Linked DNA regions of Homo sapiens. The protein of the gene in region 1 interacts with the protein of each later gene in a pairwise test. Each region holds a gene or a part of one and is shown in the gene's direction. Other genes may lie near its edges.

Region 1 (5,204 bases):
AGCTTCCCCAAGGTTACACAACCAGCACGTGGTGGGGCTGTGATTCAAACCAGGGTATCTGGGACTCCACACAGCTCTTCACTACCAGGCAGTATTGCCCCCACTGCCTGTCTCTGGGGATGGTCTCTGGGAGAATATTTCAGAGTCCATCGAAATTTTCAAATATGAAATAAATATGTCTGCATGTGTGTGGATGACCAGAAATGTCAGATGAACTATTGGGCTGGACTGATAAAGAAGCATTTCTATGATAATCAACTGTAGTTGGAGCATCTACTGGTGCAGGCAGACAACCCAAATACAAAAGGAAAAGGTGGAAATGAACGCCCAGGCGTTCAAATCTCTATTCTTAACCACTTATGCTAAAGGCAAGAAGATTCCAGTTCCCAAGGGGAAGTTGGTTAAACTTAAGTAAGATTATAACACTTGGTCTCACAGGTTTAGAAGAGAACGCTCAGTCCCGGCAGGAGTCCACGCGGAGGCTCATCCTTGTTGGGAGAACAGGGGCCGGGAAGAGCGCCACTGGGAACAGCATCCTGGGCCAGAGACGGTTCTTCTCCAGGCTGGGGGCCACGTCTGTGACCAGGGCCTGCACCACGGGCAGCCGCAGGTGGGACAAGTGCCACGTGGAAGTCGTGGACACTCCGGACATTTTCAGCTCCCAAGTGTCCAAGACAGATCCTGGCTGTGAGGAGAGAGGTCACTGCTACCTGCTCTCGGCCCCCGGACCCCACGCGCTGCTCCTGGTGACCCAGTTGGGTCGGTTCACCGCCCAGGACCAGCAGGCGGTGAGGCAGGTGAGGGACATGTTCGGGGAGGACGTCCTAAAATGGATGGTCATCGTCTTCACCAGGAAGGAGGACCTGGCCGGGGGCTCCCTGCACGATTACGTGAGCAACACAGAGAACCGGGCCTTGCGCGAGCTGGTGGCCGAGTGCGGGGGCCGGGTCTGTGCCTTTGATAACCGGGCCACCGGCCGGGAGCAGGAAGCCCAGGTGGAGCAGCTGCTGGGGATGGTCGAGGGCTTGGTGCTGGAGCACAAGGGCGCCCATTACTCCAACGAGGTGTATGAGCTGGCGCAGGTGCTGCGCTGGGCAGGCCCTGAGGAGCGGCTCCGGCGGGTGGCGGAGCGCGTGGCAGCCAGGGTGCAGAGGAGGCCATGGGGCGCCTGGCTGTCGGCCCGGCTGTGGAAGTGGCTGAAGTCCCCCAGGAGCTGGAGGCTGGGCCTGGCCCTGCTGCTGGGGGGCGCGCTCCTGTTCTGGGTGCTGCTCCACAGGCGGTGGTCGGAGGCCGTTGCGGAGGTCGGGCCTGACTGACAGCGCAGGTCCTAAAACTGAAGGCAACTTGGTTAAGGGAGGCTGAATTCTTGGAGCTGAAGGGAAAACTTCATTCCAACGGAAGGAATCCTGTAGTTTCAGGCATAGTTTTAATGACACAGAAAACTTTGCTGCATCACCTTTGCAACTTTGCCAAAGCTCAGAGTTCACTTTTTAAGTTTTTAACTCATTTTAAATGATGTGTATGCAGAGTTTTAAAATAAATTCGTCTAACAATAACTTCCTTTGGTAGTTTTGGTAGTCTAATGTCAAGTAGCTTGTAGTGGGGACAAACGCATGGCACAGGGAAAACAAGTGCCATTATTTTCGAGCTTTTTAAAAAATTTAGACTGCCCCTCCTTGATAATTTTCTAGTTCTTATACATGGGTAGATAGGTTCCTTTGTGATCCTTGTAGACTTTTAGCATCAATAAAAGAAATGTGGGGGTTACACACGTGAATGTTACTTCTGAGACATCAGTTTATAGTACAATGATTTACTACCAAAAAGATGAATGTAACTGTACTGTTACAAAGTGGAAAATAACAGTTTCCACTTTTCTAGAACATATTATGGTTCATGGCATTCCAAAATGAAGTAAGGGCCGGGCGAGGTGGCTCACGCCTGTAATCCCAACACTTTGGGAGGTCGAGGCAGGTGGATCACCTGAGGTCAGGAGTTCGAGACCAGCCTGACCAACATGGCGAAACCCCATCTCTACTAAAAATACAAAAATTAGCCAGGCGTGATAGCACTCGCCTGTAATCCCAGCCATTCAGGAGGCTGAGGCGGGAGAATCACTTGATGCAGTGAGCCGAGATCGTGCCACTGCACTCCAGGCTGGGTGACAAAGCAAGAATCTGTCTCAAAAAAAAAAAAAGAAAAGAAAAGAAAAAGAAAAAGAGTAGGATATTGGGAAAATAACATATAATATCTTCTATATGGTTATTCATATTTTTATCACACACACACACACACACACACACACACACAGTCTGTATCTCGAGCTCCTCTCTGGTTATGGAGAAGAGGCAGAGCACCAGGTGCATAGGCTGAGACTGCAGACACCTGAGCATCCTATGCTGTGAGGCGAAAGCATCCGGTTTTTTCGGGATGGGCCTGTCCAGGAAGGTTCTCGAATGCCACGTGATTAGAAAATTTGCCGCTGACTGGTTGTGCGAATCAAACAATAGGATTTCCTTATTTCTATTTCTGAGCATAATGAGAACCCTTTAAGGGAACTCATTGTCTTTAAATCAGCCAGCCTCTAGTGAGGTCATGGAGACATGGGAAGCAGGTATTCACATTAGCTCTATTCAAGAGGAAGAGGAGGAGGGAGTGTGCGCAGGCGCCCTAGGGTCTTCCCCAGCACACGTTGGGAAGAAGGGGTCTGCAAGCATGCGCACAATTGCCAGCTCAGGCTAAGGACTGCAGGAGGTTCCAGGTGGGTTGCGGGCTTCGGGCAGGCTATGGTGAGGGGTCCTGAGGGCCTTGGTGACCGCTGCAGGGAGTTGGACTTTTTGAAGCGTGGCTCAAGAAAAACCCATGTTTAATTCCTGCCTTTCGCTTCCTCAGCAGCCTTTCTGGGCCCAGGCAGGGGCCTCGAGCCAGGGAAGGATCCTTTGATGACCAGAGGGGACAGCAGGGAGGGCACAGCGTGGTCGTCCACGGTCACTTGCGCACGAGCCAGTGCTGCTGCTGGTGTTAGACAACAACTTTTATCAAAGTGGTTTAATGTACAGCAGCAACAAAGCTGCTTTGTGGAGCAGGGCTCCCAATAGGCAGTGTGCCCAGAGTAGCAGCTCGGAAGCAGTACTGCAATCACATTTATACCCACTTTCAACTATATGCAAATTTAGGGGTGGATTATGCCAAAATTTCTAGAAAAAAGGTCGTAACTTCCAGGTCGTGGGATTGTTGCTATGGAAAGGAGCCAAAACTTCCAGCTGTTGCCTTAGCAATGGTAACCTGACGTGGCACTGGTGAGTGTGTTTTATGGAGAGACTCTTTCACCTCTTCCCTTTCAGCTTGTCTTCAGTGTGGTCTGGAGCCCAATCCCCACCTCCAGAGTCTAGTCCTGCCTCCTACCTCAGTAATAAAAAGTAGTAGTATATGGTTAATTGTCAAATACATTTGCAAAGTGTAATCAAAGATACATTACCAATCTGAATCTCAAAATGTGCTATCATCTTTGAATTTGAATAATGTATTATTAAAGAAGTTACAGTTTTCCTTTACATTCAATAACATTTCTTTAGTGGTTTTCTTTTTCAGATACTTTGATTATGATCTTTTTTTTTTCATCTTTGTATCCCCGTTATACAACCCAGTGCCTGGCATAGAAAGTGGGATCAACAAATGTTTGGAAAATGAATTGTAAAGTTGACTTTCCTGTACCTTTTTAATATTAGATTTCTAGCTACCAGACTTTTGACCATTTTCTAAATTTTCTACCATAGATAACAGAAAATTCTTTCGCGCAAGCATGTCATTGTATTAATGATATTCTCCTGCCCTAAGGAAATTTACTTCCCTTCAAGCACAGGGTCCCCCAAATTACTGTATTTCCACCCCTTTCAGCTTATTTTATCCTTTTCTCCTGCTACAGAACAGTTGGCATTCACCATTCCCTTCGGTAAAGTCTTTTTTTAGGCTGTGGCTTAAAGGTTGCTTTTTCCCCCATAGCTCAAGGTTAGGCCTTGTGACCTCACTTATGTAATTTGAGTGATTTGATAGCACAAATCAATTTTATACTTAAATTACAGCATAAAACAGCACTGCCTCCTGTTGGAAAAACTTGCTTGCTAATTTTAACCAGACACAGTAAAAATACTGTCCAATACCTCAAAAATTGTGTAAATATATATCCATTTCAATTGTCCCCCTTCCTCTCCTCTCCTTTTATCTCTTGGAAGATAAAAATGTATGGGTCCTGTGCTGATAATGTTTCTGTTCATATTTCTATGCCCTGGTACCTGGATCAGCTTTTGTTCTACACAAAAAGACTTGTATCTGGCTTATTTCTGAAAGCTAGTGTTGGCCATGATGAACTTTTAGAGCAAAAGATTTCAGGCAGAGTACATTCTTACATATTCTTACACAATCAATATTCAGTTCCAGCCCGCACAGTAGCCCTAGCAAATGCCAGTGCTCCTTCCAGAGATTCACCTATGGATTCAGTACCCCAGAAGAGAATTTCTGTAAATTCTTGGGGAAGCTATAGCTAGACTATGGCTCAACACTCATTTTTCCCCCATGATTCTTAATCTAACAGTGGCAATGTTGGCCTCTTCTTAGGCAACTAGATTCGGTTCTTGCTTATTCTGCCAATAAAATACTTTATTGAGATGCTTACAAATTTGTCCCCTCCTCTTTATTTCTTTAAGAAGTTATCACTCCATATACTGGATGTTTAGTTATAATTATTGGTTTGAGTCTTATTTTTATACTTTCAATCACATTCTTTGCCTAATTCTTCTCATATTTTTATATTTTCTTTCCCTCCTCATAATTCTCTTTACATACCACTAAGTTTAGGCACTTGGACTTTTTTTACTTTCAAAATGGTGTTATATTGTGCATATCCTCTTGACTTCATACGTCTGAAGACTCCTAGACTATCTTTTCTACTACATGCTAGCAGAATGTATCATGATGAACACTGAAGAGAATTGCATACCACTGCTCAAAAATTAAACACACACACTTGCATGCATGCAAACGTGCGCGCGCGCACACACACACACACACACACACCAAGGATAGACATCTCAATCTCAAGAAATAAAAAGGAAAGAAAGACTTTCTGACTTCCAGTTCTGCAGAAGGATCAACTCCAGGTTTTAAGCCTGAATTATCAAAATTTGTCTCCAGTAGGCAGAGAAGGC
Region 2 (6,688 bases), on another chromosome or scaffold:
CAAAATGTCATCATGGAGGATTTCTTCTAGGCTTCCCCAAGAACACTTTGGGTACCAGGCATAAAGACAAATCTTTTGCCTTCCAAATTAGCTGATAAAAGTAGAAGGGATAAGAACTAAGAGCTATCCTGTGTCGCAGTTTCGTCATTTTCTGGCCCACATCCTGGGGCCTCTGCCTTGTTTACCCGGTGTTTTAAAACACACAGCTGGGAGGGGCGCAGGGCTTGCAGAGCTGGCTCTGTGCCCAGGAAGGACACGCACTCAAAATCAGCCCTGCAGACACGCACCTGGGAGCCGCTTCCCTCCCTTGGCACGTACAGGTATCTTCATTACCAGTGTGTCTCTGCTCAGATTCTGCTTTCAGCCTAATTGTTTCTGTCTGGGATTTCTTTCACTGCTCACTTGGCAGGGAAGCCCAGAGATTATTCTATCAGCCACACTCCGACTTAAGTGATGATGTCTTGCTCATCTCTGCTCCTGGACAAACCTCCTGGGGATCTATGTGTGTGTGGTTGTGTTCATTGATTCTTCTACCCTCAACCCCAAACCCCTAAAAGGAACAACAATGGCAAGATGTCTACACAGGTGACTCAGCACACACCCTACTTTATACTGAAGCAGCTGCACCTGAGGCAGCAAAGTAGCTCTGCTGACCCGCGGGCCACCCTCACCTCACCCCATCTCCGCTTCGCTCATGCCTTTGGGTTATTCCTTGCTCCTATTTGTCTTAGAGCTACTCTTCCCTCTAAAACATCCATCCTCATTTCCCTGCAGGGATCCTGGCAGAGCAGTTTGTTCCGGATGGGCCCCACCTGCACCTCTACCATGAGAACCACTGGATAAAGTTAATGAATTGGCAGCACAGCACCATGTACCTATTCTTTGCAGTCTCAGGAATTGTTGACATGCTCACCTATCTGGTCAGCCACGTTCCCTTGGGGGTGGACAGACTGGTTATGGCTGTGGCAGTATTCATGGAAGGTAATTTTGTGGAACGGATGGAGAGGAAGGAGAGCCTGACAAGTCATATTTATGAAGGATCAGAGTACAAAATATCAGAAATGTTGCAAATATAATAACCTCCCCCAGAAAATCCACATCTCTGGACTGCCAAAACCTGAATAGGACCTAGTGCTCTACTCTGGATGGGCCAGGTGACATATTCCCTAAAGTAGCTCATGAAAGCTTTGAGGCTTGAAGGCAGCTACCAAAGCCCCGGCTAACACTGCAGGAGTCCTCCTCGCCTTCCCACTGCCGCCAGCAGCCCCTGCTCACACACGTGCATATTCCTCGGTGTGGACGTATGTGCGCACATACACATGCGGGTACACACAATGCCCCAGCTGGTTGAATGCCACCATGCAGGGGATACACCCCTTTGGTTAAGCGAAACCACACTCTACCTTTTGCCCAGGGAGGTACCGTCTTGCCTCCATCACAAGCCTCAGGAGACCCACTCCACTGCCAGGGGAGCGCTGCCAGTATGACTCACACTGACTGGGGTATGAAAATACATTTTGTCATCTAACAACCTCACTTCTGTACCTCAGCAAGAGTCGAAAAAGGTTGAGGGCAAAACTGAATTTCAAGTATACACACACAGTCTGTTACAAATCAGCAACATGCTTCAGCCGGCCCATCCTATACTGACCCCACCATGGGTTCCATAGAGATTTTAAGATACAATCCCTTGCTGCTTTATACTCCTAACATACTCATGAAATACACTTACTCGCATCTGTTTGCTGCCTGTAATGTTATGTACTAACTGCCTAAATGCTGAAGAACCTAGCTGAGACAGGTGTAGGAGGAAACTTCGGTGATGGTGAAAGCCAAGCGTAGCCCTGACAGCTGCCATCTGGTTTGTGGCAGGTTTCCTCTTCTACTACCACGTCCACAACCGGCCTCCGCTGGACCAGCACATCCACTCACTCCTGCTGTATGCTCTGTTCGGAGGGTGTGTTAGTATCTCCCTAGAGGTGATCTTCCGGGACCACATTGTGCTGGAACTTTTCCGAACCAGTCTCATCATTCTTCAGGGAACCTGGTTCTGGCAGGTGATTTTCCACACCCAGGCCCCTCGCTGGTCTGGATGGAGAAGCCCCCACCGAGCGCATCCCAGAGAAATCCCTGACGAGAATATGGGGTCTGAAAATGCAGCATTAACATGCCATGCAAAGGGGTTTAGATGACCCTTTTCCCCCCATGCCCGCCCTTTGACTCCTAGTTTTATCCATTAACATCCAGAGGATGCATTAGCAATCCAAAATTTAAAGCATGCACGGTGACGTTCAGCTGCCCTCCCCAGAGGATGGGCTGATGCCTTTCACAGGCTCTGCTTGCTAAACTGTCCACTGGAAACGTGGGCCCTGAAGTTCTGTTTTGTTGTTTGTTTTGAGAGAGACTCACCCTGTCACCCAGGCTAGAATGCAGTGGCGCAATCTTGGCTGACTGCAACCTCCATCTCCCAGGTTCAAGCGATTCTCATGCCTCAGCCTCCTGAGTAGCTCAGGTTACAGGTGCCCGCCACCACACCTGGCTAATTTTTTTGTATTTTTAGAGACAGGGTTTCACCATGTTGGCCAGGCTGGTCTCGAACTCCTGAACTCGAGTGATCCGCCTGCCTCAGCCTCCCAAAGAGCTGGGATTATAGGCGTGAGCCACTGCACCTGGACTTGTGTTTTTAAGTAAGCCTATACAACCAAAATTAAGCTGAAGCCTTTTTTTTTTTTTTTTTTTTCTGAGACAGAGTCTCGCTTTGTCGCCCAGGCTGGAGTGCAGTGGCGCAATCTTGGCTCACTGCAAGCTCCACCTCCCAGGTTCACGCCATTCTCCTGCCTCAACCTCCCAAGTAGCTGGGACTACAGGCGCCCGCCACCACGCCTGGCTAATTTTTTGTATTTTTAGTAGAGATGGGGTTTCACCGTGTTAGCCAGGATGGTTTCAATCTCCTGACCTCATTATCCACCCACCTCAGCCTCCCAAAGTGCTAGGATTACAGGCATGAGCCACCGCGCCCGGCTTTTTTTTTTTTTTTAAGACAGTCTCGCACTGTGGCCCGGGCTGGTGTGCAGTGTCATGATCTCGGCTCACTGCAACCTCCGCCTCCCAGGTTCAAGCAATTCTCCTGCCTCAGCCTCCCAGTTAGCTAGGATTATAGGTGCCCACCACCATGCCCAGCTCATTTTTTGTATTTTTAGTAGAAACAGGGTTTCACTATGTTGGTCAGGCTGGTCTTGAACTCCTAACCTTGTAAACCGCCTGCCTCAGCCTCCCGAAGTGCTGGTATTACAGACGTAAGCCACCATACCTGGCCAGAGCCATTTTTCTATGTGAAAAGGCCTTTCTATGCTAACGAAGTGTGGGAACTATGAGGCGGTGGTCACACATGGGCCACTTCGGTGGCCACAGGAGAACGGCTAGATTGCTTCTCAGGACGACCAACCACAAGACCAACTTCTCTCTGTAATCCCCTAGATTGGGTTTGTGCTGTTCCCACCTTTTGGAACACCCGAATGGGACCAGAAGGATGATGCCAACCTCATGTTCATCACCATGTGCTTCTGCTGGCACTACCTGGCTGCCCTCAGCATTGTGGCCGTCAACTATTCTCTTGTTTACTGGTATGTCTGAGACTTCAGTGAAGCTTTTCCTCCTAACTCTAAGCAGGACTGATGTGATTAACTTGCACCATCTGATGAGTGCCGACTACAGGCCAAATTCTGTGCAAGGTACTCTCATGCAGGGAAGGTATCACTACCCTTATTTGCAAACAAGGGGAATGAGGCTTTTCAAAGTTTAATGACCTGAGGGCTTTTCAAAGTCATAGTAACCTGAGGGACCCAGGTTTCAAATGCAGGTCTCACAGATTTTAAGCCTATGGTGTGGTGGGGAATACTGAAATGGGAATCAGTACTGGATGGCAGTCCCCACGTAAAGGGTTCATTCTGGACCCATCATCTTATTTCCAGACCTGCCCTCCCTGCTTCCCAGAAATGATGTGACAGTCAAAAAATAAACCAGAGCAGAATGTTAAGACAAACTGCACTCCACCCCTCACTGAAGGCTCCTTAGAGGTATACAGATAACAGCTATGGACTCCTATGCACTTGCTGCGCCCCAGGCCCAGTGGAAAGCAGCTACACTCTATTATCCCATTTAATCTTCACTGCTTTATGAAGTATGCACTGTTATTTTTTACAGGTGGAGAAAACAAGGCTTCAAAAAGCTGAGTAACTTGACCAAGGTCACCCCACTAATAAATGGCAGAGCCTCTCAGTGCAAGGGTGAATTTTAGCAAATGGTATTACCAGTTCTATTTGCTGTTCGGCTGCCTCTACCTTTTCTTCTAGGTCATTTCTCTAGATCCCAAGCAGAATATTAGGTTGGTGCAAAAGTAACGGTGATTTTTGCCATTATTTCATCCAGAAAGAGTTCCACACGGACCAAAGAGAAGGGAGCTCAAGTCAGTTTCTTTTAGTTCTCCTGCCCAGCCACTGAAACAGTAAACCAAGATAGGCAAGACCTTGGCCTCAATTATGACATTCAGTAGTTTCCACCATCGCCCCTTTATCTACTGATGAATATTTCCTAAGAAGTCTAGTTTATAGACATGTAATCACAGTATTTGATAGAAATATAAAGAAAATAGTTTAAGAATCAGTAGATGCCTTCACATCCTTGGTAATGGATTAAGGGAATCTCTGGCTAATTGGCTCTTACTCTTTCTCTATTAAAGCCTTTTGACTCGGATGAAGAGACACGGAAGGGGAGAAATCATTGGAATTCAGAAGCTGAATTCAGATGACACTTACCAGACCGCCCTCTTGAGTGGCTCAGATGAGGAATGAGCCGAGATGCGGAGGGCGCAGATGTCCCACTGCACAGCTGGAATGAATGGAGTTCATCCCCTCCACCTGAATGCCTGCTGTGGTCTGATCTTAAGGGTCTATATATTTGCACCTCCTCATTCAACACAGGGCTGGAGGTTCTACAACAGGAAATCAGGCCTACAGCATCCTGTGTATCTTGCAGTTGGGATTTTTAAACATACTATAAAGTCTGTGTTGGTATAGTACCCTTCATAAGGAAAAATGAAGTAATGCCTATAAGTAGCAGGCCTTTGTGCCTCAGTGTCAAGAGAAATCAAGAGATGCTAAAAGCTTTACAATGGAAGTGGCCTCATGGATGAATCCGGGGTATGAGCCCAGGAGAACGTGCTGCTTTTGGTAACTTATCCCTTTTTCTCTTAAGAAAGCAGGTACTTTCTTATTAGAAATATGTTAGAATGTGTAAGCAAACGACAGTGCCTTTAGAATTACAATTCTAACTTACATATTTTTTGAAAGTAAAATAATTCACAAGCTTTGGTATTTTAAAATTATTGTTAAACATATCATAACTAATCATACCAGGGTACTGCAATACCACTGTTTATAAGTGACAAAATTAGGCCAAAGGTGATTTTTTTTTAAATCAGGAAGCTGGTTACTGGCTCTACTGAGAGTTGGAGCCCTGATGTTCTGATTCTTCAAAGTCACCCTAAAAGAAGATCTGACAGGAAAGCTGTATAATGAGATAGAAAAACGTCAGGTATGGAAGGCTTTCAGTTTTAATATGGCTGAAAGCAAAGGATAACGAATTCAGAATTAGTAATGTAAAATCTTGATACCCTAATCTTGCTTCTGGATCTGTTCTTTTTTTAAAAAAACTTCCTTCACCGCGCCTATAATCCTAGCACTTTGGGAGGCCGAGGCAGGCAGATCACGGGGTCAGGAGATCAAGACCATCCTGGCTAACATGGTGAAACCCCGTCTCTACTGAAAATACAAAAAATTAGCCGGGTGTGGTGGCGGGCGCCTGTAGTTCCAGCTACTCGGGAGGCTGAGGCAAGAGAATGGCATGAACCCGGTAGGGGAGCTTGCAGTGAGCCCAGATCATGCCACTGTACTCCAGCCTAGGTGACAGAGCAAGACTCTGTCTCAAAAACAAGCAAACAGACTTCCTTCAACAAATATTTATTAAATATCCACTTTGCAACAGCACTGAAATGGCTGTAAGGACTCCTGAGATATGTGTCCAGCAAGGAGTTTACAGTCAAACAGGAGAGACATGCCTGTAGTTACATCCAGTGTGATGGGTGCTGAGAGGCAAGTACAAACCACGATGAGAAAAAGGAGAGGAGGGGAAATGCAGAGCTTGCCCTGTAGAAAAAGCACATCCCAGGTAGAGAGGGTAGCACATTAAAAAATGAAAGCATAAAAAAATACGGAGAACTTAAAAAGATTAAGTTCTACAAACTGATAAAAGTGAGTTAGGACCAAGTTGATGGGCCTTAGAGACCAAATAATACTTTCCGTGTGCATAGTATTTTTCAGATTCTGAGATGCACCCTATCTCATTTGATTCTCACAACCGCTTGTAATGTGTAAGAGCATGAGGTCTTTCAGAAAAGCTGGCTGGCCTAGCAGGGCGCGGTGGCTCACGCCTGTAATCCCAGCACTTTTGGAGGCCGAGGCGGGTGGATCATGAGGTCAAGAGATCGAGACCATCCTGGCCAACATGGTGAAACCCTGTCTCTACTAAAAATATAAAAATTAGCTTGGTGTGGTGGTGAGCACCTGTAGTCCCAGCTACTTGGGAGGCTGAGGCAGGAGAATCACTTGAACCCAGTAGGCGGAGGTTGCAC
Region 3 (7,032 bases), on another chromosome or scaffold:
ATATTGAATGAAGCCTTAAAAAGAAAAGATTGCTAGATTCAATTATATGAGGTGAAATATCTGTACATTGAAAAAAACTCAGATGAAAATTTCTGTCCTTATAATTACTGCTAGGCAAGAATTCCGTCTTGTTTTACTTTGCTTTTATATGAATTATTCCTAAAGTAAATCATTTTTATATGCCTACATCTACTGGCATTTTTATATTATGATTTTTCCATGAATGCCCTTTAGCCATTTATCTATTAGAGTATTGTCTTATTCCTTTATAAAAGTTGCCATATATTAACCTTATCCTTGTCTTATATGTTGCAAATGCTTTACCAGTTTGTCACTTGCCTCTTAATTTGCTTGGAGTTAATAAAGTTTAGAATATATCATATATAAACCTGGTTTACTACCCACACGTAAAACCTGATTCTGCCACTTTGTTTTGTATCTTCAGGCAAGTTTGATAACCCATCTTTACCTCAGTTTCCTCTTTGGTAAATGAGGATCTTAATATATTTTATAGGGGTATTATGAAGATTAAACAAAATAATTATTTAGAATAGGCCAGGTACTGTGGCTCACACTTATAATCCCAGCGCCGTGAGAGACTGAGGCAAAAGTATGACTTAACCCCAGGAGTTTGAAACCAGCCTATGCAACGTAGCGAGACCCACATCTCTACAATAAAGTAAAATAATTATTCAAGTGTTGTGGCACATGCCTGTAGTCCCAGCTACTTGGGAGGCTGAGGTGATAGGATTGCTTGAGCACAGAAGTTCCTAGGTTGAAGTGAGCTATGATTGCATCACTGCACTCCAGCCTAAGTGACAGATAAAGACTCCCCAAAAAACTCCAAAATGCATCAGAATAACTGAGGGCAATGTCTAGCACTTAGTAATCTATTTTAGATCTGATTTTTATTTATGTTGTTTTTCAGTATACAGAAGCTTTTAATCTCATATAATTTAATCTAACAATCTTTCTTTTAAGCCTTCTGTATTAGTCCCCTCTCACCCTGCTATAAATAACTGCCCAAGACTGGCCAATTTATAAAGGAAAGAGGTTCAATTGACTCACAGTTCTGCGTGGCTGGGGAGGCCTCAGGAAACTTACAATTACAGAGGAAGGGGAAGCAGGCATGTCTTAAATGGCAGCAGGAGAGAGACAGCGAGAGAGAGTAAGAGCAAGAGACGAACTGCCAAACACCTAAAAAACCATCAGATCTTGTGAGAACTCCCCCACTATCACGAGAACAGCATGGGGAAAACTGCCCCCACGATCCAGTCACCTCCCACCAGTGCCCTCCCTCAACATGTGGGGATTACAATTCGGATTACAATTGTTGATGAGATTTGGGTGGGGACACAGCCAAACCATATCAGCTTCAATAAGTGCCTAAACTTTTTTTAAAAAGGTAAGAAATTTTTTTTAAAATTTTTTAAAAAATTTCCACAGCTTTCTGTCTTCCAAAGCATAGATTAACTGGCCAGAATGTATAGCTACTTTGTGTAATTGCTAATTCATACAGATTTAACAGAATAAAAGATTATCTGATAATTATTGCCACTGAATTGCACACTTAAAAATGGTTAAAATGACATGTTTTACATGATATATATTATACCACAACTTTTAAGTTAATTATATATCAAAAACCATTTAATTGTGTACATTAAGTGAATGCTTTGTGTGACATATGAATTTATATCTCAATAAAGCCCTTTTTAAATTAAAAAAACCTGAGAAAGTAATGTCCATTTAGAATAAGTAATTTCACTACTACTTCCAAATGAAAGAGCTGTTAAAATAAACGCTTTGCATTGTGATTCATTCATTTGACAAATATTCATTGAGCACCTAAGAGCCAAGCACTGTGCTGGGCCCTGGAGATTCACTGGTGACCAAAACAGTCATGGAGCTTATAGGAAAGGTGTGGGAAACAGATGTTTTAAAAAATTTAATCTCAGCTGGGCGTGGTGGCTCACGCCTGTAATGCCAGCACTTTGGGAGGCCGAGGTGGGCAGATCACGAGGTCAGGAAATCGAGACCATCCTGGCTAACATGGTGAAAACCCGTCTCTACTAAAAATACAAAAAATTAGCCGAGCATGGTGGCGGGCGCCTGTAGTCCCAGCTACTGCGGAGGCTGAGGCAGGAGAATGGCGGGAACCCGGGAGGCGGAGCTTGCAGTGAGCCGAGATCGCACCACCGCACTCCAGCCTGGGTGACAGAGCAAGACTCTGTCTCAAAAAAAAAAAAAAAAAAAAAAAAAAAAAATTTCTCTAATGAATGTTCAGTTACAAATCTGAGATAGATACTATCATAGAAAACTGAAAATTACTATATAATGAGAAAATAATTTAGACTGGGGGTTAGGAAAGGCCTCTTTGAGGAAGTGAAGCTGTGACTTAAAGGAAGAATAGGATTTATCCAGGAAAAGTTTTCAGCAAATTCTATGGACATCTTAAAGTAAATAAGGAACAGCTTATAGTGACACTGAATTTTGTGGAACAACAACAAAAACAAATACTCTACTAATTTTCTTTAAAAGGCTTTTTAAGGAAATGTTCTTATTCCGTAAGTGATGCTAAGATGCAGTAAATCTTCTATGTCAGGGCTTCTTGGACCTTAATGTGCCTACAGATTTACCTGAGAATCTTGTAAGATGTGGGCTCTGATGCAGTAGCTCTGGGCTGGGGCCTGAGACTCAGGGAATGCCCACATTGCTCTGCAGAGGACCATGCTGAACTGAGGAAAACAGGCAGACATTTCAGAATTCTTGAATTATTTTGTAAACTCTCTATTTTCAGTTCAAGCAAGTTTGCTGCTGTTGGATTTCATAAAACTTTGACAGATGAACTGGCTGCCTTACAAATAACTGGAGTCAAAACAACATGTCTGTGTCCTAATTTCGTAAACACTGGCTTCATCAAAAATCCAAGTACAAGGTAAGTTGAGAAATTGAGACAAAAGGATTGGTGGTTGCTATGAATACCAGCCATTCTGTGGGTTTTCCTAAATGTTTTAATCCTGAAAACACCTGATAGTTAAAGCTCTTAGTTCATTTTGATTTCAGTTTCTGCAGATTGTGGGAAAACAGGTGGAAAGCCAAAAAGAGAGAAAGCAAGGGAGCGTGACTAAAAAAGTAAATATGAATGACATTGGTAAACTTGCTAACTCTTCCTTTTTTCTTCTCCTGAGTAATGATTCACAGGCTTAAATATGCATACATGTCACCAGGTGTGCTTGGGAACTATGTTGGGGCTTCACCCTCAGATATGTTGACTTACTGGGTTTGGTTGGGGTAGGGTAGTGGCAGGGAAGGGAGCCTGGAACTCTACATTTAAAAAAGGTGATTATCATAGGTGATTCTGATAGAGATAACCCAAGACCACATGTGAAAAACACTTCCCTTGGAGGTAATCTAGAGATTAGCCTCCGAAAGGAGTACCAGATCATACTCTTTACTTGGTTAAAAAATAAAATTATAAAGGATTAATTTGAAGATAATTTTTAATGTTTTCTCTCTTTAGAAATAGCTTTAATGTCTTTGTAAACATGATGCATACTTATTTGTTTAAATTCCAATGTTAATGAAAAATACAAATCGAAAAGTTTCTTTTTTAATTTCCTTAAAACCCTCTATTGAGTGGAAACCACTCTCAAAATTTTGATAAACATCCTTCTAGACTTCTCTGAATTTTCTATAACTGGCGTATGTTACACATGGGGTCCTGGAAGCAGCAAGTATACTGCATACTTCCCTCAGCATTATGTTACAGACATCTAATAAAGTACAGAGCATTATAATAAATTGTATTGATTATTGGGAGCAATAGCATCTCCTAGTGATGATTTTAGGGTTGTTTTTAGTGTTCTGGATTTTTAACAGCAAATCAGCAATAAGCATCCTCGGGCACACATATTTTCACTTTTGGATAATTATCTCCCTCAGGTAGATTCATAAAGGGGGATTACTGGGCCAAAGGGTATATAACTTGTAAAAATTCCTACATATTGCCAAACTCCTCTCCAGAAATGCTCCACTGATTTGCACTCCTACCCACAGTGCAGGGAGAGCAACTTACTCTCTACTTCTTCATCAGTCTGCCTTCTGTGACTCTTTTAATCACCGCCAATCCAGTACGCGAAGAATCATCTTTGTTTTTACCCTGATGACTAGCTACATTCATGTTCGCATATGATTTTTGGACATTGCACTTCCTTTTATGAATTGCCTATTTTCATGGCATCAGCTCACTTTTTGCTATTGAGCTCTAGAGTTGTTTTTGTTTGTTTCTTTGTTTGTTTTTTGTTTTTTTTGAGACAGGGTTTCACTCTGTTGCCCAGGCTGGAGTGCAGTGGCGCAATCTCGGCTCACTGCAACCTCCACCTCCCAGGTTCAAGCGACTCTTGTGCCTCAGCCTCCCGAGTATCTGAGATTACAGGCACGCACGACCACGCCCAACTAATTTCCGTATTTTTAATAGAGATGGGGTTTCGCCACGTTGGCCAGGCTGTTCTCAAACTCCAGGCCTCAAGTGATCCGCCCACCTTGGCCTCCCAAAGTGCTGGGATTACAGGCATGAGCCACCATGCCCAGCTGAGCTCTAGAGATTTTTAATTAATACATAAGAAACAATTCTTCATACATTTGAGAAACCCCTTTATATATCACATCTGTTGCATATGTTTTTTTTTTCCCCAGTTGTTTTTTGTTTGCTTTTAAGCCTATTTTCATTTAGTTTTACATTAAAATTTTCTTAGGGATTTTTTTCTCATGGACTTTAGGTTCTGTGAGGTGTTTAGAAAGGTCTTTCTCATTCCAAGTTTTTGAAAATATTTACCCATATTTTTTCTAGCATATATTTTATGGTTGCATTTTTCATATTTAAATCATTGCCCCACCCAAATTTATTTTGATTTAAGAAGTAAGGTCACAGTATAGTTTTTTCCAAATAGTTAATGAGTTTTCTGCACTATTTATTAAATAATACATCATTTTCCTCACTGATATTAAATTCATATTATAAGTTCACATGCTTACTTGGATAGACTTTTGGATTCTCAATTTTATTGTAATGATGAGATTCAATTTTGCTTGGTTTTGTTTTGTTTTTCAGACAGGGTCTCATTTAGGCTGAAGTGCAGTGGTGTGATCATGGCTCACTGTAACCTTGAACTGGGCTCAAGCAACCCTCCACCTCAGCCTCCTGAGTAGGACTACAGTGTGTGTGCCATCATGCCCAGCTAATTTTTTTTTTTTTTTTTTTTTTTGAGAGCCAGGATTTTGCTGTTTGCCCAGGCTGGTCTCAAATTGGCCTTGAGCAATTCTCCCACCTCCACCTCACCTCCCAAAGTGCCAAGATTATAAGCATGAGTCATTGCATCCAGCCAAGATTCAATTTTTAAGTTTTATTCTGCCCCCTCAAACTTCCCCATATTTCCCCCAATTCAGCTGCCTTTGTTGAAAATGTATTTAAAATTAATGAAAAATATTCAGTGTGGCCACTTGAAGGGTTAATTTGAAGGTAAAATTGAAGATTCTAATTTTTTTCCTTTTTTTATTTTTTTTATTTTTTTTGAGACAAGGATTCGCTCTGTCACCCAGGCTGGATGCAGTGGCACAATCACAGCTCGCTGCAGCCTTGACCTCCTGGGCTCAACCTATTCTCCCACATCAGCCTCCCCAGTCCCTGGGACCATACAGGCATGTGTCCCCACACCTGGCTAATTTCTAAATTTTTTGTAGAGACAGGGTCTCCCTATGTTGCACAGGCTGGGCTCAAGGGCTCCTTGAACTCAATTGAACTCCTGGGCTCAAGTCATTCTCCCAACTTCAGCCTCTCAAAGTGCTGGGATTACAGGCATGAGTCACCATGCCTGGCCTAACAGTTCTATTTTATTATTATTATTATTTTTTTAGTGGAGACGGAGTTTCATCATATTGGTCAGGCTGGTCTCGAACTCTTGACAGCTGATCCACGGCCGCCAGGTTCTATTTTAAACACACTTAATTTAAGTCATCCCACAGGGAAGCAGAACAGAAAGCCAACGTTAGACAGAAATTTGGGAGCTGTCCAAAGATCTCAAGCCCCCAAGAATCTATCAAACAGTCTTTAAAATCTATTTTTAATACACAATTTTTGTTAGAAAACAAAAGTAAGAGTGTATATTTTAGAGGTCAATGTTTAAATTTATCAGTATTAAACAAGAGAACCCTAATTGGAGTCTGAAGAGAGAAGAGAAGGGACAGATATGTTTTTCAGGTTGGGAAATGGATCTGAGGAATGAAAGTAGTGAGGATAAGCTTCACTAAAACTGAAAGCAGATGTTGAAGATAAAACTTGCCAGTTTCCTCAATTTCTTTTTCAGTATGTGGATACTAAAATAACATATTTGAGTCAAGTTTTAAAGTCATACTGTCTTTCAGTAGTTAAAAACAGACATCCTATTTTCAAAAGTTATAATTGAATTTTTTAACCTTGCCCCCCCTACAAGGCCGCACAGAGCTGACCTTAACGTGGGCTCCAGCGCCCTCTCCTGACAAAACTTACTAGTGCCATTAATTCCTACATATTGCCAAACTCCTCTCCAGAAATGCTGCACTGATTTGCACTCTGGAGGAAAAGTGTGAAAAGAGGCTAAGATGATTCTAGGCTGAATATAAACCTGGCTAAGGAAGGGCCTAAAGATTGGTCCTGACATATGAACCTCTTTGAGGCTAAGCTGGTACTAAAGTAGACCCCAAAGATGAAGTTGGTTTTAATATAGAAACTTATTACTTCTAATTAGAAGAGAGAACATGTTCCTCGTTAAATACCTGTTTACATTTCAGACACCAAATAAAATGTCATTTTCTTAAACCTCACAACAATACTTTTGGGGAGATGTTATTAGTCCCTCTTCAGTAGATGAGAGAGATCTGAGGTTTAGAGAAATTAAATTACAAGTTATATACCCTTTGGCCCAGTAATCCCCCTTTATGAATCTACCTGAGGGAGATAATTATCCAAAAGTGAAAATATGTGTGCCCGAGGAT
Region 4 (7,032 bases), on another chromosome or scaffold:
ACTGGAGATGAAGGGTACAAGGTGACATGTCCAGGTTCCCTAGGCTGATTGATGGCAAAGTCAAGACCAGAACCGGGATCTGCACCTCCCCACCCCTATAATTCTCTGATACCGAATGAAGTTTTAGATGCCTTTAGAGGTGCTGGTGATTGGGCTAAGAAACTTAAGGGCTTGCTTAGGGGAGGGAAACATGATCAGGCTTAAGGGGGCAAGGTACTTTGTGCTTCAGAAGTATTTGTGACAGCTGTGACTAAGGGATTCGAAGAAGTGGCAGGAAGAGAGATTTATGGCCCTCCAACTCCCTCCCTTGGTGTTGACCCAGCAACAGGTGTGTAGTGACAGGGACACATAAAGCCAGAGACAAGGCTGAACAGGCGGCAGGGCCATTTGGTGAGACAGTCAGCTGACCCCGTGTAGAAAGAGCCCTGACTCACTGGGGAGTGGGAGAGGAAGACAAGTCCGAGGCCGAGCACTGCCCACCCTGACGTGATGGCAGGGGAGAGCCCAGGGCCACGGACCTGGTAAGCATTCCTAAGAATACGGAGGCTGGTGCTGGGAAAAGCAGAAACCCAGTATTGGGGAGAGAGGTTTCTGGGGTGAGGTGGGGCCAGGAGACCCTGCAGAGTAGCAAGGCCAGGCAGATTGTCTTTGTAGTGGTCCTGGTGGATGTGGGGCCTGCAGCATTAAGCTGGGTGAAGAAGGCGCCACGCTGCACCTCTTATCCCATACTCATTGTCTAAGCCACTGTCCACCCTGCCCACTACTCATTTCTTTGGGGCTCCTGGATGGAGACCTGAAGTAAGGCTTTGTGTTCTGAAATCACCCCCTTGGTCCCTAGTACCTCTTTGGAGGGCTACTCCCACCTTTTTCCCCTCCTCTCATCTTTCCCAAAGTGATACTTGCTTTGGCCCCTTATCCTAAGACCACAAGTAAAGCACCTATCCCTTTGGGGAGGGGGAAGTGGTCCCTTATTCCAGGACCACAAGTGAAGATGTCAGCCTTTCTCTTTGGGGAGAGGGGGAGATGGTCCTTTATCACAGGACAGCATTGAGATGGGGTTGGGTGTGTGAGGGGCCCAGCTTATTGCAATTTTGATGGCCCTCCTTTTCCTCCCTCCCCCAAGCAGTGTGCCTGTTCCACAGTGGGCACATCAGCTGAGTCTTAGAAGTGTATGTTGATGCCGCTAAAGAAATCACAAGAGACAAAGTTTTGGTGCGCCTCTACTGCACCGCAGGGTCCTGGGACACTGTGCGAGACAGGGGAGGTACTTTTTTTATTTTTTGTAGAGGTGGTCCCTGTCCTCCAGGAGCTTACAATCTAGCTGGGGAGACACAACTAATGCACACTTAAACAATCAGTACAATTAGCGATTACCACAATATTGACCACAACTGCATGAGACCAGGGAAAAGCAAGATCAGTGAGGGGCAAGGGGGGTTCAGAGAAAGTGTTTTAGTAAAGGTGGGATTCATTTACTTTTACTGCTTGAATAGTTCCAAATCAAGTGACACATTATTTTGGAGTAGGGTGGGCTTGGGAGGCAGTGAGGAGGAAAGGGGAATCGAGAGAGCAAATGCAGCGAGGCTGGAATGCAAGTGCCCTGGGCAAGGGACAGCGAGAGGGCCCCACTGTATTTCTTAACCACCCTCCTTCCTCAACTGTGCCCTCCAGTCCCGCCACACAGGCACGCGGTTGGTGCTGCACCAAGATTCAGGGCGTCGGCTGGCGATGTCAGAATGTCCATTCTGCTGGCTGGTGCGGTGTTTTGATTTCCATGGTGGGGCCTGCTGGCATGGCCCTGGCTTCGGGGCTGGGATGGTGCTGTCCCGACTTTGTCCAGATCAGAATGCGGTGCCTATGCCCAGATCTCAGGGGTCTGCTCCCCCTATCCCCCCTCCTCTCTCGACCCTGCCCCTTAGTGGGACCGGTGCAAAGGGGTTGGGAAGGGATCTGGTATCTTCGTCATTGTCGGTACTGCTTCTCCGGGGGTCTACTGGCCCCTCACTGACCTTGCCAAGTGCTCCTCTGGCGAGGGAACACAGGGGACCCCACATTCCTGCGCGGCACTGGCTCCCGTGCTGGCCGAGATGCACAGGAGCACCTGATGATACGGCCGCCCAGGGCTGGGAGCTGGGGCCTCAGTTGGGGGCTCGCTGCCTGCGCTCCCCCAACACCTGCCGCCCGGTCCGCGACACCGTGTATGCCAGCTTCTGCAGGGAGTACCTGAACACCTGCGACGAGAAACCCAGGACCCACCCTTAGTGGAGAGCACCCACAGCATGTCTGTGGTGCTGCCGTGCCCACCCCCGCCCCACCCCCTGCCCCGCCCGCCCATCCAGCGTAGGCTGGAGAGGCGGGCGCGGGCGCAGCTTGTCCACGAGTCAGGGCAGCTGGAGCTTTTCCAACTGTGCTGAGAGCTGCATGGCGGCAAGCTGATTGGACCCACAACTTAGGTATACCTCACTTCTCGCAATGGGCTGTGTCCCTGGAGGATTTCGAAAAGCGAATCCTACCCAGTAAATGCAGCATTCCAGGAACACCTTGAAGGAAATATGCGATTCCTTTGGCAAAGGATTCCTTTAGCAGGGAATTCTTCCTGCAAAGGGAGCTTTTAGGGTAAATGATTTTATGGGCAAAGCGCTTTCTTCTGATTTATCTCTTTTTACACCAAGCGCTTTTGCCTCTTTTTTATTTTTTTTATTATTATTTTTTTTTTTGTAAAGCAATTGTCCTTTTTTGGAAGTGCTTTTTTTCCCCTTCTATTTTTCTCTCGAGGGGCTTTTTCCTCTAATTTTTTTCTTTAAAGCGTTTTTGCCCGATCCATTTTTTTCCGTTAGCTCCCTTGTCTAATTTTTTTCTGCAGTGCGTTTTTAATCTAATGCATTTTTTTCTGCCAAGTGCTTTTCTCCGATTTATTTTTCCTGCAATGCGCGTTTTTCTGTTTTCCTGTGAACTACTTTTTCTCTAATTCGTTGTAGGGTTTTTTTTTTTTGCGAAGTAATTTTTATTTTTTCTGAGAAGTGCCTTTTTCTAACTTATTTTTTGTTCCACCCCCGCAAGCGCTATATGTTTTTTTAAATAAAATTTCTCCGCAATGCGCAATTTTTTAAGGTGGAAAATTTTCACTCTGCGAGCTGTAAAGTCTTTCAACACAGTAGTGCCCCGCCTCCCTCCTGGGGTCGAGTCCGGGTGTAGCGGGTTTTTCTTACCGCGTAGGTCGCTAAATGCCTGGGTGATCGTCCGCAGCGGTCGCCCGCCGCGCCCCGAGTCTTTGTTCCCTGGCAGGCGCGGGCGCACTAGGGAGGGTCAGCGCGAGGAGGACGGCGCAGGGAATGGGCAGGGGGCGCGCGGTGCCGGCAGCGGCACTTGGGCAGGCAAGGATCGCGGCAATCGGAATAGGACGGGTCCGGGAAGCGGCAATCGCGACGCAGTCTTGCGGGTTCTAGGGGCGCGAGTTGGGAACCCTCTCCCACCCGAAACCCCGTCAGACTTACCTGCAGCAGCACGCGGAAGATGTACCAGCCGATGATGAGCAGTTCAGCCGAGGCCGCCGCCACTGCCGCCATGGTTCCAAGAATGGTAGGTGGGTGGTCGAGAAAGAGGGTTTGCCGAGATCCGCTGGTCTCGGAGTCCGCTGTTGGGCGCACTGCCGCAGCCGCGGTGGCCGCGCCTTAAGTACCCGCCCGCCACCTAAGTGCGCATGCGCGCCTTGGGGGGTGTTTATGAGGAGGGGTGGCTGGGGGCGCTCCTCATTCGCCAGGAGAGGAAAAAAATAATCCATCTGCTCTTTCCATACCGACCCCCGCCTCCTGAGTTCCATCTTAGCCCCCTTCCAGAAGATTCCGCCGTGCTTGCTTTTGGATTTTGCTTTAAAATGGAGGGGTACCACGACTCTGGGTAGAGTACAGGGCGAGAATGGGGGTGCAGGTCTCTTAGTGTGGCGCCCTTCTCCCCAGTCCCTGGCCTGCAAATTTGAGCTCAGTCTCCGGTGCCACTCCAAAGCCTACCTTGGGGATGGATGGAAAACCGAAATTAGGGAGGGGTCATCTGCCCCATAGAGCAAAAAACGTGGTGCCCCTTTCAGAAGCTTTGGCATAATAGGCCCGTGCTCGGCGCTCTTTTCCTGATACTGAATGAGTTTTAAGCCCAGGTCCTCTGCTTCATGAGGGTGCCTGAGCGCGTAACCCGTCTGATTCTTTACATCTCTCTTACGGTAGCGAGGAGATGAGAATCTGCGGTGGAGGTCGCTACTGTAGGGAGCTGAGCCAGAGCACTGCGCTTTGGGCGCAAAAGCAGTAGTCACCCGGTATCTGTAGGAGGGATACAGGAAGGATTGGCGCCCTTCGTATGCACGGAAGGAATGAGCTCTACGGAGAAGTGGTTGGAATATGCTTGGGGATAGTTTTCTGCTGGACAGGTCGTTTCGACCTCAGTCTTCCGCTCCCCTCCCCCAAGCCCTGGTAGGTCGGCCTTAGCCAGTGGGGTTCTTTGTACCCGTTGCGCTGTGCGGCTGGATCACCGAACGGGGTTACGCTACCGCTACCGGAGGGTTGTGGCTACCGCAGCCCCGTTTCCAAGTGAGGCGGGTCCCTTTTAGACCGCCAGTCTTGTGGGTCCCTCGCACAGCGCGGATTTTCGGGCGGGAAGACCGGAATGCGGTTTGTGAGTGTGGTCCCCGCGCACCGGTAGCCAGCCGAAAGCACCTCTTTCCAGCAAGCTGCCTGGCCCAGGGACCAACTGGCATTTGCCCCTATGTGGATAGAAAATTAATTTTCATTAAAAGCTCCCAGAGGTCAGGTTCTATACAGTGCCAGCAGCAGATGGAGGTGTAATGATCCAAACGAGTTCAGTTTGGACAAAGTAGCATAGTGACTTTTTTTCTACATTGACTTTCGGAGAAGTTGGCAGATTCTGGCAAAGTGACGCTGGGCTGTTTGAAAAAGGCAAGCTTAGCCTAGGCTGCCATCTTAAAATATTTCGAGGCTGTAGCTGCCTCAGGATCCTTTGCCTGTGGTCTGGTGGCCGGCAGTGCCCCGCTAACAGCTTTAACTCTGCACTTAGTGCCTGAGCACCTATGGCTGTGAGAGATGCTAGATACAGAACCCTGTCCTTACCACGTGGGGGCACAGCAGGGAGCCCTTGGTCGTCCTTTGGCAACCACTGGGCGGTATTGTGAGGTCTGGGCCCCTTGAGGACGGGCTGCAGCCCCAGGAGGCGATACATGATCTCTGCTGGGCAGGGCCCAGGCAAAGCCAGCCCACTGTGTGAAACCGTGCCAAAGAGCCCTCTCCCCGATCCCCCAGGAGAAGCCCCGGGGAGACATCCCAGGAAGCTTCCCGAATTAGTGACTTGGAGAGGAGTAGAACTTTCACGGGTGGGCAGGGAGGAAAGGGCATTTCACATTTGCTGTTGTTAACCATGATCCATTTTCCCAAATAAGTATACATTCTGTTCCTGTTTTTTTTTTTTTTTTCTTTTTTTTTTTTTTTTTTTGTCTGTCTGTCTGTTCTTTGTCTGTTTGTCTGTTGTGTTGACTTTTCTCTTCAGGATCCCTGCTGCCTTGGTGATCCCGGGCTGACAGCCAGAGAGCACAGCGGCTCAGCTCCTGGAGAGTGAGGGTTGAAGAAAGCGGAGGGCAGCCGCCTGCGCCCGCTGGCTCCCATTAGGTCGGTTCCTGCAGCGGTGCCCGGCAGCCTTGGTGAAGGCCCTGCCCGGCAGAGATCATGTATTGCCTCCAGTGGCTGCTGCCCGTCCTCCTCATCCCCAAGCCCCTCAACCCCGCCCTGTGGTTCAGCCACTCCATGTTCATGGGCTTCTACCTGCTCAGCTTCCTCCTGGAACGGAAGCCTTGCACAATTTGTGCCTTGGTTTTCCTGGCAGCCCTGTTCCTTATCTGCTATAGCTGCTGGGGAAACTGTTTCCTGTACCACTGCTCCGATTCCCCGCTTCCAGAATCGGCGCATGATCCCGGCGTTGTGGGCACCTAACGGCCTGCCCTGTTAGCTTTCCAAGGAAGCAGAAGACGGGAGGGGAGGCATTGACATAGGTCATAAAGCATTGGAGTTTCAAATCCCGCAGCCTCGCGGGTGTCACATTCCTGACGGCGCCTTTTTGGCCTGTGATGTTTTATCCTTACAATGTGAATAATGGCACTGACCGGTGCTTTTATTGTAAAGTCCTATAGTCGTGGGTGGTCTTGTGGTTGTGTGTGTTCTGTCCCCATCTAGGTCCTGGCTGGCCGCATGACCACCCCTCTCGCCTCATTACTGTGAGGAGTCTGGGTCCATCCTGGTCAGCTGCCCCAATGTGACCTGGGGCAGATAAAATGCCAGTCTCATTGTCACCTCTGTGACCCCTCCTTGTCAGGGTCTCCTTCCTTCCCAGAATGTTACTGACTCCTCAGTCCCTCTTCTGGTTTCCCTTTATTTCTCTTCTACCCTTTTCCTTTTTTGGGGAGTACCTGTCCAAGACAGGGCTCATTTTTGCACTTATCTCGAATTTGAAGAGATTGCTGACGCCCGAGAGCCTCGCTTTTTCATCCTTCTTTCCTTGTTCAGCAGGCTAGACAGAAACATGTCTTGACTGTTAGTTGTCCACAAATCTTCAGTATTTTCTCCACTTCATTTTTAAGAAAGGAAGCAACAGATAGATGTTGCTCTTTCACCTGGGTGTCTGGGCTCAAGCTTTCCCGCCCAGCCTCACTTCCTTTGCCCTTCCTCCTGCCTTTCTCAACTGTCCCAAGGAGGGGGCCTCATTGTGTCTCCCGTGCATGCTCTGCAGCATTGAAGTATGGTGTGTTCACGTAGTTCTAGCAGTCCCCAGCTGAGTGAGTGGGAGAGTACCTGTGTGTTTCGTAACGGCCTTGATCCCCTTGATAGATGTTTGGATATTTTTTGGTGTGCCCTGTGTGTGTGTGTGTACAAATACATGTGTATATTCCTTTTAAAGAAGCTTTATCGAACGTGGTCTGATTTTGAGGTTTAGCAATAGCTAGCTATATATGGTAGGTGCCGCTACAGTTTTTATTTAGCA

Evidence for each region.
Region 2: the proteins of GIMAP1 (region 1) and TMEM45B interact in binary tests that used the Homo sapiens proteins (3 or more experiments, as listed by UniProt).
Region 3: the proteins of GIMAP1 (region 1) and HSD17B11 interact in binary tests that used the Homo sapiens proteins (3 or more experiments, as listed by UniProt).
Region 4: the proteins of GIMAP1 (region 1) and BLCAP interact in binary tests that used the Homo sapiens proteins (3 or more experiments, as listed by UniProt).

Annotation. Positions count from the first base shown.
Region 1 is NC_000007.14:150,719,610-150,724,813, forward strand, and holds the end of GIMAP1 (GTPase IMAP family member 1), read left to right. Parts: intron 1-438; coding exon 439-1,316; 3' UTR 1,317-4,675; downstream 4,676-5,204. Other genes in the region: GIMAP1-GIMAP5 protein, read left to right, coding at 439-797. UniProt on the Homo sapiens protein: May regulate lymphocyte survival. Required for normal levels of mature T-lymphocytes and mature B-cells.
Region 2 is NC_000011.10:129,853,836-129,860,523, forward strand, and holds the end of TMEM45B (transmembrane protein 45B), read left to right. Parts: intron 1-774; coding exon 775-981; intron 982-1,872; coding exon 1,873-2,057; intron 2,058-3,477; coding exon 3,478-3,623; intron 3,624-4,738; coding exon 4,739-4,850; 3' UTR 4,851-6,168; downstream 6,169-6,688.
Region 3 is NC_000004.12:87,353,185-87,360,216, reverse strand, and holds part of HSD17B11 (estradiol 17-beta-dehydrogenase 11 precursor), read left to right. Parts: intron 1-2,800; coding exon 2,801-2,938; intron 2,939-7,032. UniProt on the Homo sapiens protein: Can convert androstan-3-alpha,17-beta-diol (3-alpha-diol) to androsterone in vitro, suggesting that it may participate in androgen metabolism during steroidogenesis.
Region 4 is NC_000020.11:37,517,866-37,524,897, reverse strand, and holds part of BLCAP (apoptosis inducing factor BLCAP), read left to right. Parts: intron 1-444; exon of another isoform or gene 445-521; intron 522-1,207; exon of another isoform or gene 1,208-2,001; coding exon of another isoform or gene 2,002-2,231; intron 2,232-2,459; coding exon of another isoform or gene 2,460-2,540; intron 2,541-3,446; exon of another isoform or gene 3,447-3,494; coding exon of another isoform or gene 3,495-3,566; exon of another isoform or gene 3,567-3,648; intron 3,649-4,308; exon of another isoform or gene 4,309-4,460; intron 4,461-4,594; exon of another isoform or gene 4,595-4,662; intron 4,663-5,547; 5' UTR 5,548-5,723; coding exon 5,724-5,987; 3' UTR 5,988-7,032. Other genes in the region: NNAT (neuronatin), read right to left, coding at 2,002-2,231, 2,465-2,540, 3,495-3,566. UniProt on the Homo sapiens protein: Acts as a tumor suppressor; induces growth arrest at G(1)/S checkpoint and apoptosis via RB1-dependent and p53/TP53- and NF-kappa-B-independent mechanisms. Modulates expression of genes involved in the regulation of proliferation, cell cycle and apoptosis.